2 separate regions of the Homo sapiens genome follow, and region 2 is linked to region 1. The links come from fine-mapping of genetic effects on gene expression. A gene starts in region 1. The other region holds a variant in brackets. All regions are shown on one strand. Distances are between the middles of the regions. Region 1 holds the start of ZNF333 (zinc finger protein 333). Region 2 has its middle 7.2 kb from the start of ADGRE2.

Region 1 (5,376 bases):
TCCCGGGTAGCTGGGATTACAGGCGCCTGCCATCATGCCCGGCTAATTTTTGTATTTTTAATAGAGACGGGGTTTCACCATGTTGGCCAGGCTGGTCTTGAACTCCTGACCTCAGGTGATCCACCTGCCTCAGCCTCCCAAAGTGCTGGGATTACAGGCGTGAGCCACCATGCTTGGCCACTGACTCCTTTCTTACTCCTGGCTTTGTTGAGTTATAGTTGACAAATAAAAATTGTATATATTTAAGGTGTACAACTTGATGTTTTGATATACATACAGTGAAATAATGAAGCAATTAGCACATCCATCGCCTCACATATTTGCTTTTTTTTTTTTGGTGGTAAGAACACGTAAGACCTACCCTCTTAGCACATTTCAAGTACATAATATGTTCCTGTTAACTACAGTCACCATGCTGTACATTAGATCTCCAAAACTTATTTATCTGAAATAACTGAACCTTTGTACATTTTGTTTTTTAAATGATACATTTCTTTTATTTTTATTTTTAGAGACAGTGTCTTGCTATGTGGCCCAGGCTGGTCATCTGGAACTCCTGGACTCAAGCGATCCTCCTGCCTTGGCCTCCCAAAGTGTGCTGTGATTACATGCATGAGCCACCCCGCCCGGCCCAACTTCTTTGTAAGAACATTTAGCTTAAAACACAGATAAATTGTACTGCATAAAGGTATTTTCTTTCTTTATATCCTTATTCTATAAGCTATTTTTCATTTTTTTTTTTGAGATGGAGTTTTGCTCTTGTTGCACAGGCTGGAGTGCAATGGCAAGACCTTGGGTCACTGCACCCTCCACCTCCTGGGTTCAAGCAATTCTCCTGCCTCAGCCTCCCGAATAGCTGGGATTACAGGCGCATGCCACCATGCCCAGCTAATTTTTGTATTACTAGTAGAGACTGGGGGTTTCATCATGTTGGCCAGGCTGGTCTCGAACTCCTGACCTCAAGTGATCCACCAGCGTCGGCCTCCAAAGTCTTGGGATTGCAGGCGTAAGCCACCGCGCCCGGTCTTTTCATATTTTTAAAACCTTTTTAAATGTGAGTAATGTGTTGCACTGCAACATTGTGACAGTTACAACATCACTAGGTGATAAGAAATTTTCAGCTCCATTATAACCTTATGGGATCACAACTGTGTATGTGTTTCGTGGTTGACCAAAACCTTGTTATGTGGTGCATGACTGCACATGTGCTTGATATATAAAGAATACCAGGGAACTAGTGACAGTGGTTGTTTCAGGGGAGGAAAATTTAGGAATAGAGTGAGCCTCCCGTTTGAACTTTTCCCATAGGTATGTACTATGTATACTACATAATAAATAGTTTTTAAAAAGTCAGATCTATGTCTTAGATTCACACATCTTATTTTTAGTGAGAAGGGCAAGCTGTAGAAGAAACAAAAATACATCGTCCTATTTTTAGAATAAAGACAGTTAGTTGACCCGTGAACACCAAGGGTTTGAACTGTGGCTATCCCCTTATAGGTAGATTTTTTTCTACCTTTGTCCTCCTTGGGACAGCAAGACAAACCCCTCCCTTTCCTCAGCCTACTCAGGGTGAAGCTGACGATGAAGACGTTTATTTATGATCTTTACGATCACTTCCACGTAACGAAGAGTAAATATATTTTCTCTTCTTCATGATTTTCTTAATAACACTTTCTTTTCTCTGAGCTTAGTTTATTTTAAGAATATGGCATATAATATACAAAATATGTGTTAACTAACTTTATGTTATTGGTAAAGCTTCTGGTTAACAGTAGTCTATTAGTAGGTAGGTTTTGGGGGAGTCAAAAGAAGTGAATTTTCCACTGCACAGGGTGGCGCCCCAACTCCCGTTGCCTAAGGGTCAGCCGTATAAAAATATACAAAAACAATCTTAAGTATGGGTATATTTTTGTAGGGGATTGGATTAAGCCCATGGATAAAGGTGGAAGGGGTTGGGGAAAAGGAAGGAGAAAAGGGTAAGTTAAATATTGAGCATCCCTAAAGAGACCCGGGGAGGGGTCGGGTGTGCCCCTCTCAACCCTTGAAGCCCAGGTCCCCTCATCCCGCCTTCCGAATGCAAGTTCAGCTCCCATTCCCACCCCAAGCACAAGCCCCGCCCCATTTTTGCCCCTGAGGCGCACGACCCGCCCCTACTACCACCCTGCAAACCAAGGCCCCGCCCACTCCGCCATTGGGGTGCAAGCCCCGCCCATCAGCCATCGGAGGGCAAGCCACACTCCACCCCGCCCCCGCGCACAGGCCCCGCCCCACTTTTGCCCCGGGACCTAAGCCCCACCCCTATCCCTGTCTCTCGGACATAGGCTCCGCCCCCAGCACCACCCTCCATGCTCTGTGGGACCCCACTCCAGAGCCTAACCTCATCCCCCGGGTAAGAATACTAGAATTTCTCCTTGGAGGCTAAAGAAGACGTTAGTTTCTCTGCCGCCGCCTAAGGCTACCCTGGCCACAACAGCCTGAGCCACAGCCACTTCCGTTCCCGGCGGCCCCGAGACCGGAAGCGGAAGTGCGCGCGGCGGCGGCCGACGGCGGCTGAGCTGTGCTGCGCGGCGCGGCGCGGTGCGGCACGGCACGGTGGGAGTGTCTCCGGCTGGCTTGCAGGTGTGGCCCGGCCCCTCGGGAGGGCGGGGAGGGCGGGGAGGGCTCGGCTGGCGCGGGGAGGGACTGGAGGGCCTAGAACAGCTCCGCCTGTGTGAGGGGTTTCCTCCCTGCGATCAGCCGGTGGCCGGCGTGAGGCCCACACAGTCAGGGCCTCGCATCTGGGCGCCCGCCGCCCGGTCTCTCGCTCTCAGGTACCCCCCGTCCGGGCAGACAGGGCTGTCATCCTGTCAAAAGGGAAATCCCAAACAGTCCAGGTCCCACAGCTCAGAAATGTGGTGACACCGGCCCCAGCTCTCACCTGTCCTTCCCAATTTTTAGGGAAAGTGCATAAAGACGGCCCTACCTTGCCTACAGTATGCAAGATAACTGCGAATTAGTAATTCACGTTTTATTTGATATGATACTTAATATTATCTAGCTTTGCAACTGGAAAGTGAGGTCTGGGTCCACATGTGCAAACTGGTTTAATTGATTGGCCAAATTTACTTAAAAAATTGAATGCATCCTCCATTAAGGAATGAATTAGATGACGAGAGATTTCTTTTGGAGACTGACAATTTGAAGTCTTTTAGCTTAATATCTGTTAGCTTGGCTTTGCATCTCTTCCTTTTCCATAACTTTTTCTTTCTTCTTTTTTTTCTTTCTCATAAGAAAGCTTTTGGCCAGGCTTGGTGGCTCACTCCTATAATCCCAGCACTTTGGGAGGCCGAGGCGGGTGGATCACCTGAGGTCAGGAGTTTGAGACCAGCCTGGCCAACATGGTGAAACCCTGTCTTTACTAAAAATACACAAATTAGCCGAGCGTAGTGGTGGGCGCCTGTAATCCCAACTACTCGGGAGGCTGAGGCAGGAGAATCGCTTGAACCCCAGAGGCGGAGGTTGCAGTGAGCTGAGATTGTGCCACTGCACTCCAGCCTGGGTGACAGAGCAAGACTCCATCTCAAAAACAAAAACAACAACAAAAGGAGGAGTTCTTAATTTTTTTTGTTTTTGTTTTTCTTTATTTTCTATGTTTGAGACGACTTTTACTTCTGCTGTGGGCATCAAGTTTCTCACTGTTAGGTTAAGAAAAGCCGTTTCTCAGTTATTTCACAAATATTATTATCAAGAAAACCTAAGACTGTTATTCAGATCTTTTCAAGTTGGCTCCAGTCCTTCCCCCAAGCATGTGAATCACAGAGCTTCAAAACTAATGGAACTTCAGGGAAAAGACGATATAAACTTTGTTAATACTGGAAATTCAAATTGAGTTGGCCATAAGTGGGATGTCTTTTTTAATAATGGGGTTAAAGCTCGTGTCTACTGAGAAATCAGGAAAAAATTAACTCCAGAGGAAAATCATGCATCAGATTTCAGTTTTACGAGTGAGGTGTTTGTTTCCACAAAGAATATATGCGCTTGCCTTGCCTTTTTAAAAAGAATTAATATTGTTTCTTAAAGGTACCTGAAACTTGTGTGATTATGTCTTATGAAAGACAGGCACTTTAAGTTATTCTTATATTTGATTTTTATGGTGTCATATTGTCTTTTTTTTTTTTTTTTTTGAGACAGAGTCTCACTTCATCACCCAGGCTGGAGTGCAGTGGCACAATCTCGGCTCACTGCAGCTTCTGCCTCCTGGGTTCAAGCAATTCTCGTGCCTCAGCTTCCCAGGCAGCTGTGATTATAGGCGCCCGCCACCATGCCCGGCTAATTTTTGTATTTTTAGTAGAGACGGGGTTTCACCATGTTGGCCAGGCTGGTCTGGAACTCCTGACCTCAGGTGATCCACCCGCCTCGGCCTCCCAAAGTGCTGGGATTATAGGCGTGAGCAACCATACCTGGCCTCATACTGTGTTTTGTGTGTGCGTGGGCATATTCCTTCTTAGGCTAGCTATACTGAGTCATTCTTGAGGAGTGTTGATTATTTGGCATATTTTCACTGGGGTGCCCTCAATGAATTGGACCCTGTACATGGGGAAACAGTGGGACTGAAATAGTTACAGTGCTTGCCCCTGTGGAGGCTTTATTCTAGCTAATAATATTGGTAAATTAATAGTGCCAAAGGCAATATGAGAACGTGGAACAGGAGAACTTGGGGAGGATGTCAGGAAACACATCTGAAAAGGAACAAATGTTTGAACCTTCAAGATGAGTTGTACGTAGCTAAACAAGGGGTCTAGCTGTGGAGTGGGGTAGCGGAGGAAACTTGAGAGAACATTCCAGATGTACAGTCTTTCAGGCAGTACGAAGCCTGCTGTGTTCCAGGAGCTGAGAACAGGTAGAGAAAGCTAAAGTAGAGAAAATAAAGTACTGAATGGATGAGCCAGGTGAGAGAGGGAGGCAGGTCCCTGAAGATCATGGTTAGCATTGGATCTTCTTTTTATTTATTTTTTTTCTTTCAGACAGAGTCTTGCTCTGTCACCCAGGCTGGAGTGCAGTGTGGGATCTGGGCTCACTGCAGCCTCCACCTCCCGGGTTCCAGCGATTTTCTGGCCTCAGCTTCCTGAGTAGCTGGGATTACAGGTGTGTGCCACCATGCCCAGCTAATTTTTGTATTTTAAGTAGAGATGGGGTTTCACCATGTTGGCCAGGCTGGTCTTGAACTCCTGACCCCAAGTGATCCACCTGCCTCGGCCTTCCAAAGTGCTGGGATTATAGGCATGAGCCACCGTGCTTGACCTGGACCTTATTCTTTTTTTTTTTTTCTTGACATGGAGTCTTAGTCTGTTGCCCAGGCTGCAATGCCGTGGCACGATCTCAGTTCACTGTAAC
Region 2 (5,376 bases), 95 kb after region 1:
GGCTGGGATTACAGGTGCACACCACCACGCCAGGCTAATTTTTTTGTATTTTTAGTAGAGACGGGCATGAGTCACTGCGCCCAGCCAAAATGATGGTTGTTTAACGTAACGCCATGTAATGCAGGCATGTGGTGTTTTGCGGTTATATTCACATGTGATTTTATCAGGGACCAAAGCAAAAACAAAGAGAATTCTGAAAAGAGTTTGTATCAAGGAAGATAAAATCGGCCAGGCAGAGTGGCTCATGCCTGTGATCTCAGCACTTTTGGAGGCCGAGGCGGGAGGATCCCTTGAGCCCAGGGGATCGAGACCAGCCTGGGCAACATGGTAAAACTCCATCTCTACCAAAAAATGCAAAAATTAGCCAGGAGTGATGGCATGTGCCTGGAATCCCAGCTACTCACGGGGCTGAGGTGGGAGGATCTCTTGAGCCCAGGAGTTCAAGGTTGCAGTGAGCTCTCGCCACTGTACTCCAGCCTGGGCCACAGAGTGAGACTCTGTCTCAGAAAATAAGTAAGTAAAATAAAGCTGATCATGGATAGACCGATGGTCCCAAGAATTACATTGTTTCATGAATTATATAAACCTGAGGCTCTATACAAATATTTAAAAAAGAATTTTAAAATGTGTAAAGGTTTTAAGGAGAAGCGATTAGAGGAAGCAAAGGAGAGAGTAGGGTGGGGGAGGGGAACAGCTCAGGGGTGGCTGTGGGGGTGGGGAACTGGTGGCAGCCAACAAGAAGCCCTGAGCTGGGAACGCTGTGTGACATTTGGTGGCATTTTTATCACCTTCTTGCAGCTCTCAGTGTCTTCCCCATTTTGCAAAATCTTCTGAGCAGGGTGGTGCCGATGTCCCGATAAGGATGGGGTCAGGCTTCTGGGGGGCACTGTGAGGATGGGGGTCTCAGAATCCTTCCCTTGACTTTCGATGGGTGGGGAAGGCCAGGGGAGGAAGGGGGCTTATTCAGGCTGGGTGCCCACCCGGGTCAACCCCTCCGCATGCCTCTGGGCCTCTTCTGTTGTGGGCTTGTGGGTTCCCGAGAATTAGGGCCATGGATGGCACTGACGGTCCCAGCCAGTACCAGAAAGAAACGATGGGAAAGCATTGATGAGAATCAACCCATCCCCAGGGCTCTGTCCCTCGGATGGAGGTCTCCCTTTCACTTCTTTCCAGGCATAGAAAACAGTTTGCGGCTCCTCAAAAAGTTACTTGCAGAGTGACCCTGTGATCCAGCCATTCTGCTCCTGGGTATACACCTGAGAAAACTGAAGGCAGACACTCAAACGGATACTTATGTTTATTTTTAAATTTAATTTAATTTAATTTTTTTGAGATGGAGTCTCTCTCTGTCACCCAGGCTGGAGTGCAGTGGCGTGATCTTGGCTCACTGCAACCTCCACCTCCTGAGTTCAAGCTACTCTCCTGCCTCGCCTCCCGAGTAGCCGAGATTACAGGTGTGTGCCACCACCCCTGGCTATTTTTGTGTGTGTGTGTGTGTGTATTTTTAGTAAAGACAGGGTTTCACCATGTTGGTCAGGCTGGTCTCAAACTCTTAATCTCAGGTGATTCCCTTGCCTCGGCATCCCAAAGTGCTGGGATTACAGGCGTGAAGCACCGCACCTGGCCTCATATAGTTACTTTTTGTGTATGGTTATGACGTAGGGTCTAAGTTCTTTCATTATTATTATTATTTTTTGCATGTGTATATCCTATTCTTGGGAAAATTTAAAGGGGATTATTTCTGTTTCTGGTAACGCGCGCGTTCATCCTGTGCTCCCCTGCCTGTAATTCTCCCACTAGGGTCAGAGTAGGGCTGGAAAAGCGAAAACCATAACTAGAAGAGACTTCCCCAACAGGATGTTGCCCAACCCTGGCAGGGCTGACGTCCAGCCTCCAGGGTCCTTACCGGCAGTGCAGTCACAGCTGTGACTAAACCCAGCCACCCACAGCCTGACGCCCCCACACCCTTGACCTTCCCTTTAGCTTCGGGCTTGAGCAGGCCTTTGATACTCAAATAGAGAAAGGAGACAGCAAGACCCCTGTGCCTTCTCAGAGGGGGCACCCCCTTCCCCGATGCCTTCACGGGTCCTGCCTCTCCGGGACCCAGCTTCCCTCCTGGCCACCCCACCACCTCCCCAGCCACACCTCATTTCCACCCATCTAGAGAGGGTGAAACACAAACACTCCTGGCAGCCCTGCCCGAGTGTGTCCTGGGACATGGTGGGGTGGGGGCTCCCCGACTCCTGGGAAGGGGAAGTCTGGGGTGGCCTGTCCTCCCAGCTCCTCGCCCCACTGGTTCCTCTCCCCATGAGTCATGGGAAAAAGCAACAAAACCAACCGCAGGGAGATATAATATCTCTTCCTGTATCTGTGACAGCTGTCTTGTTGGTCTGGCCGTCTGTTCTTCCTGTGAGCATCTGAATCCGTTCAGACCAAGCTCTTCCTCTCCTTGAGCACCCTCTATGGCTCCCACCTTACCCAGTAAAATCCAGTCTTCCCCAAGGCCCACAAGGCTTGGCTGTGTGATTTGCCCTGTCACCTCCAGCTCTCTTCCCCTCATTCACTTGGCTCCAGCCACAGCACCTTCCTCACTATTCCCCAAACAAATATACCAGGCCCAGTCCAGCCTCAGGGC[C/T]TTTGCATGTGCTGTTTTCGCCACCTGGAATACCTTTCCCTCAGAATTTTTTTTTATCTTTTAATTATTTTGTTTTTTGAGACAGAGTCTTGCTCTGTCACCCAGGCTGGAGTGCAGTGACACGATCTCGGTTCAACCTCTGCCCCCGCCCCCTGCCTCCCCGTTTTCAAGCAATTCTCCTGCCTCAGCCCCCTGAGTAGCTGGGATTACAGGCGCCTGCCACCACGCCTGGCTAATTTTTGTATTTTTAGTAGAGAGGGGGTTTCACCATGTTGGCCAGGCTGGTCCCGAACTGCTGATCTCAGGTGATCCACCCGCCTCGGCCTCCCAAAGTGCTGGAATTACAGGCGTGACCACTGTGCCTGGCCGAGACACTGCACCTGGCCTCTTCTTACTTTTAGAGACAGGGTCTTGCTCTGTTGCCCAGGCTGGAGTGTGGTGTTGCCTTCATGGCTCACTGCAGCCTCCACCTCCTGGGCTCAAGTGATCCTCCTGCCTCAGCCTCCTGAGTGGCTGGGGTTACAGGCCCGAGCCAGGCCTGTTCTGTTTCTTCTCTGTACTCGAAACCTACAGCAATGCTCTAGGTTTGCTCAATACACACAGTAGCTGCTCAATAAATGTGCATAAATAATACATGAACGATGAGTTCTAGCTGGGAAATGACAACTGGGAAAAGTGGGATGTGGAGGATAATTTAAGAGATGAGAGCTGTTTCCGAAACTCCTGGGGGGCCTGAGGCGCCCGGATCGGGGAGAAACGGGGGCGACCATCCACTTCCCCGGCAGTCGCACGCACCTCCCCTTGGCGGCCCACAGATGGCGCTGGCTCCACGCGCTGCAGCGGCGGGAAGCCGGAGGTGGGAAAACCCAAGCTTTAGCCCCCTCCCCTGTCTGGCTGCTGGGGTCAGTTCCTGGCCCGGATTAGGATGCCAAGCCCGGGCACCCTGCTTGGGGTCCCACCTCCTGGTAGACGGGCTTTTTGGTCAAATGAGGGGAATCTGAGAAGAGTGGGGGTGGTCCACTCTGTGGTCCTCCCTCTGTCCACGCATGCTCTGATTTCCCCATTCCTAAAACTAGTTCAGCAGCTCCATGCCTGGGGGAGGGGTGAACGCACTTAACCATGTTCGTGTTCTGCCTTAACTTTATATAGGTTAGAGCTGGGCGCAGCGCTTGGTGTCAGTGGGTCCTGGGTGCACATTTGTGGAACAGTGAATGGGTGAATCCCTGTTTTACAGATGGGGAAACTGAGGCTCAGGAAGGCGATGCGGCTCACCCAGGTTCATAGAGCCAGAAAATGGCAAGGCTGGGATCGGAGACACCAGGCCTGCGTGAGTCCAGAGTCAGCTCGTTTTTTTTTTTTGATTGTTTGTTTGCTTGGTTTTTTTTTTTTTTTTTTTTTTTGAGACAGGGTCTCTGTCACCCAAGCTGGAGTGCAGTGGCAGGATCTTGGCTCACTGCAACTTCCGCCTCCTGGGTTCAAGCGATCTCCTGCCTCAGACTCCTGAGTAGCGGGGATTGCAAGCGCGTGCCACCATGCCCAGCTAATTTTTTGCATTTTTGGTAGAGACAGGGTTTTACCATGTTGGCCAGGCTGGTCTCGAACTCCTGACCTCAAGTGATCTGCCTGCCTCGGCCTCTCATAGTGCTGTTGCCCAACCTCAAAAAACGAAAACGGGAAGTTTTTGTCAACAGGAGCGTGGGAACCGGAAATCCTTGCTTCCGATACCGGAAGTCAGAGACCACACATTTGCAGGGAGCGAAATTGAGGTCCCAGTGCGGGGGCCTGCAGAAATCCAGGAATAGGACTCAGGGATCTAGGGCTGGGATGTTGGTGGTTCTGAGCGCCCAGGAAATAGGAGTTCTATGAGAGTAAGTATGAGAAATTGGAAGAATGCAGAGCTTGGAAAGGAATTGGAGGGAGTCAGAGAATGAGGGAGACTACTGTGAGCTGGGAGGGACCAGCCAGAGTGGCGCCAGTGTCCCGTGGTTCAGGAGTTTTGATAAGAGAATGCAATAAACTAGAATTGCACTAGAGTTAAAAAAAATTAATTATAGTTTATTTTTTTGAGACAGAGTCTCTCTCTGTCGCCAGGCTGAAGTGCAGTGGCAGGATCTTGGCTCACTGCAACCTCGGCCTCCCAGGTTCAAGCGACTCTCCTGCCTCAGCCTCCTGAGTAGCTGGGCCTACAGGCGCGTGCCACCATGCACAGCTAATTTTTGTATTTTTAGTAGAGACGGGGTTTCACCATGTTTGCCAGGATGGTCTGGATCTCTTGATCTCGTGATCCGCCTGCCTTGACCTCCCAAAGTGTTGGGATTACAGGTGTGAGCCACTGCGCCTGGCCCAATTATAGTTATTTTAAATTCCCTATTAGTTTATTTCTAAGTCTGGTTTCTGCTGATTTCTCTGTGGTTTGTGTTTTCTTGCTTTTGCTTGTGCTTCATAATGTTTTTCGAGACGGAGTCTCACTCTGTGCCCAGGCTGGAGTGCAGTGGTGTGATCTTGGCTCATTGCAACCTCCACTTCCTGGGTTCAAGCAATTTTCCTGCCTCAGCCTTCCAAGTAGCTGCGACTACAGGTGCACATCATCACGCCGTCTAATTTTTTGGATTTTTAGTAGAGACAGGGTTTCGCCATGTTGGCCAGGCTGGTCTTGAACTCCTGACAGGTGATCTGCCTGCCTCGGCCTCCCAAAGTGCTGGGATTACAGGTGTAAACCACCGTGGCTGGCCCGTGTTTCA

Evidence for each region. PIP is the estimated chance that this variant, and not a neighbour inherited with it, causes the effect.
Region 2: its variant is the best candidate, but not a certain one, in a credible set for the expression of ZNF333 in whole blood (TOPMed, PIP 0.69).

Annotation. Positions count from the first base shown.
Region 1 is chr19:14,687,529-14,692,904 of GRCh38, forward strand. ZNF333 (zinc finger protein 333) reads left to right here and starts at 2,520. Exons shown (of 12, transcript NM_032433.4): 1 at 2,520-2,622. RefSeq lists silencers at 2,114-2,163, 2,494-2,863.
Region 2 is chr19:14,783,022-14,788,397 of GRCh38, forward strand. No RefSeq gene overlaps it. Among named protein-coding and RNA genes, the nearest start is that of ADGRE2, 7.2 kb to the left of the region's middle. RefSeq lists a cis regulatory region at 3,282-3,733 and an enhancer at 3,498-3,997. The variant C/T (reference allele first, on the strand shown) is at 2,636.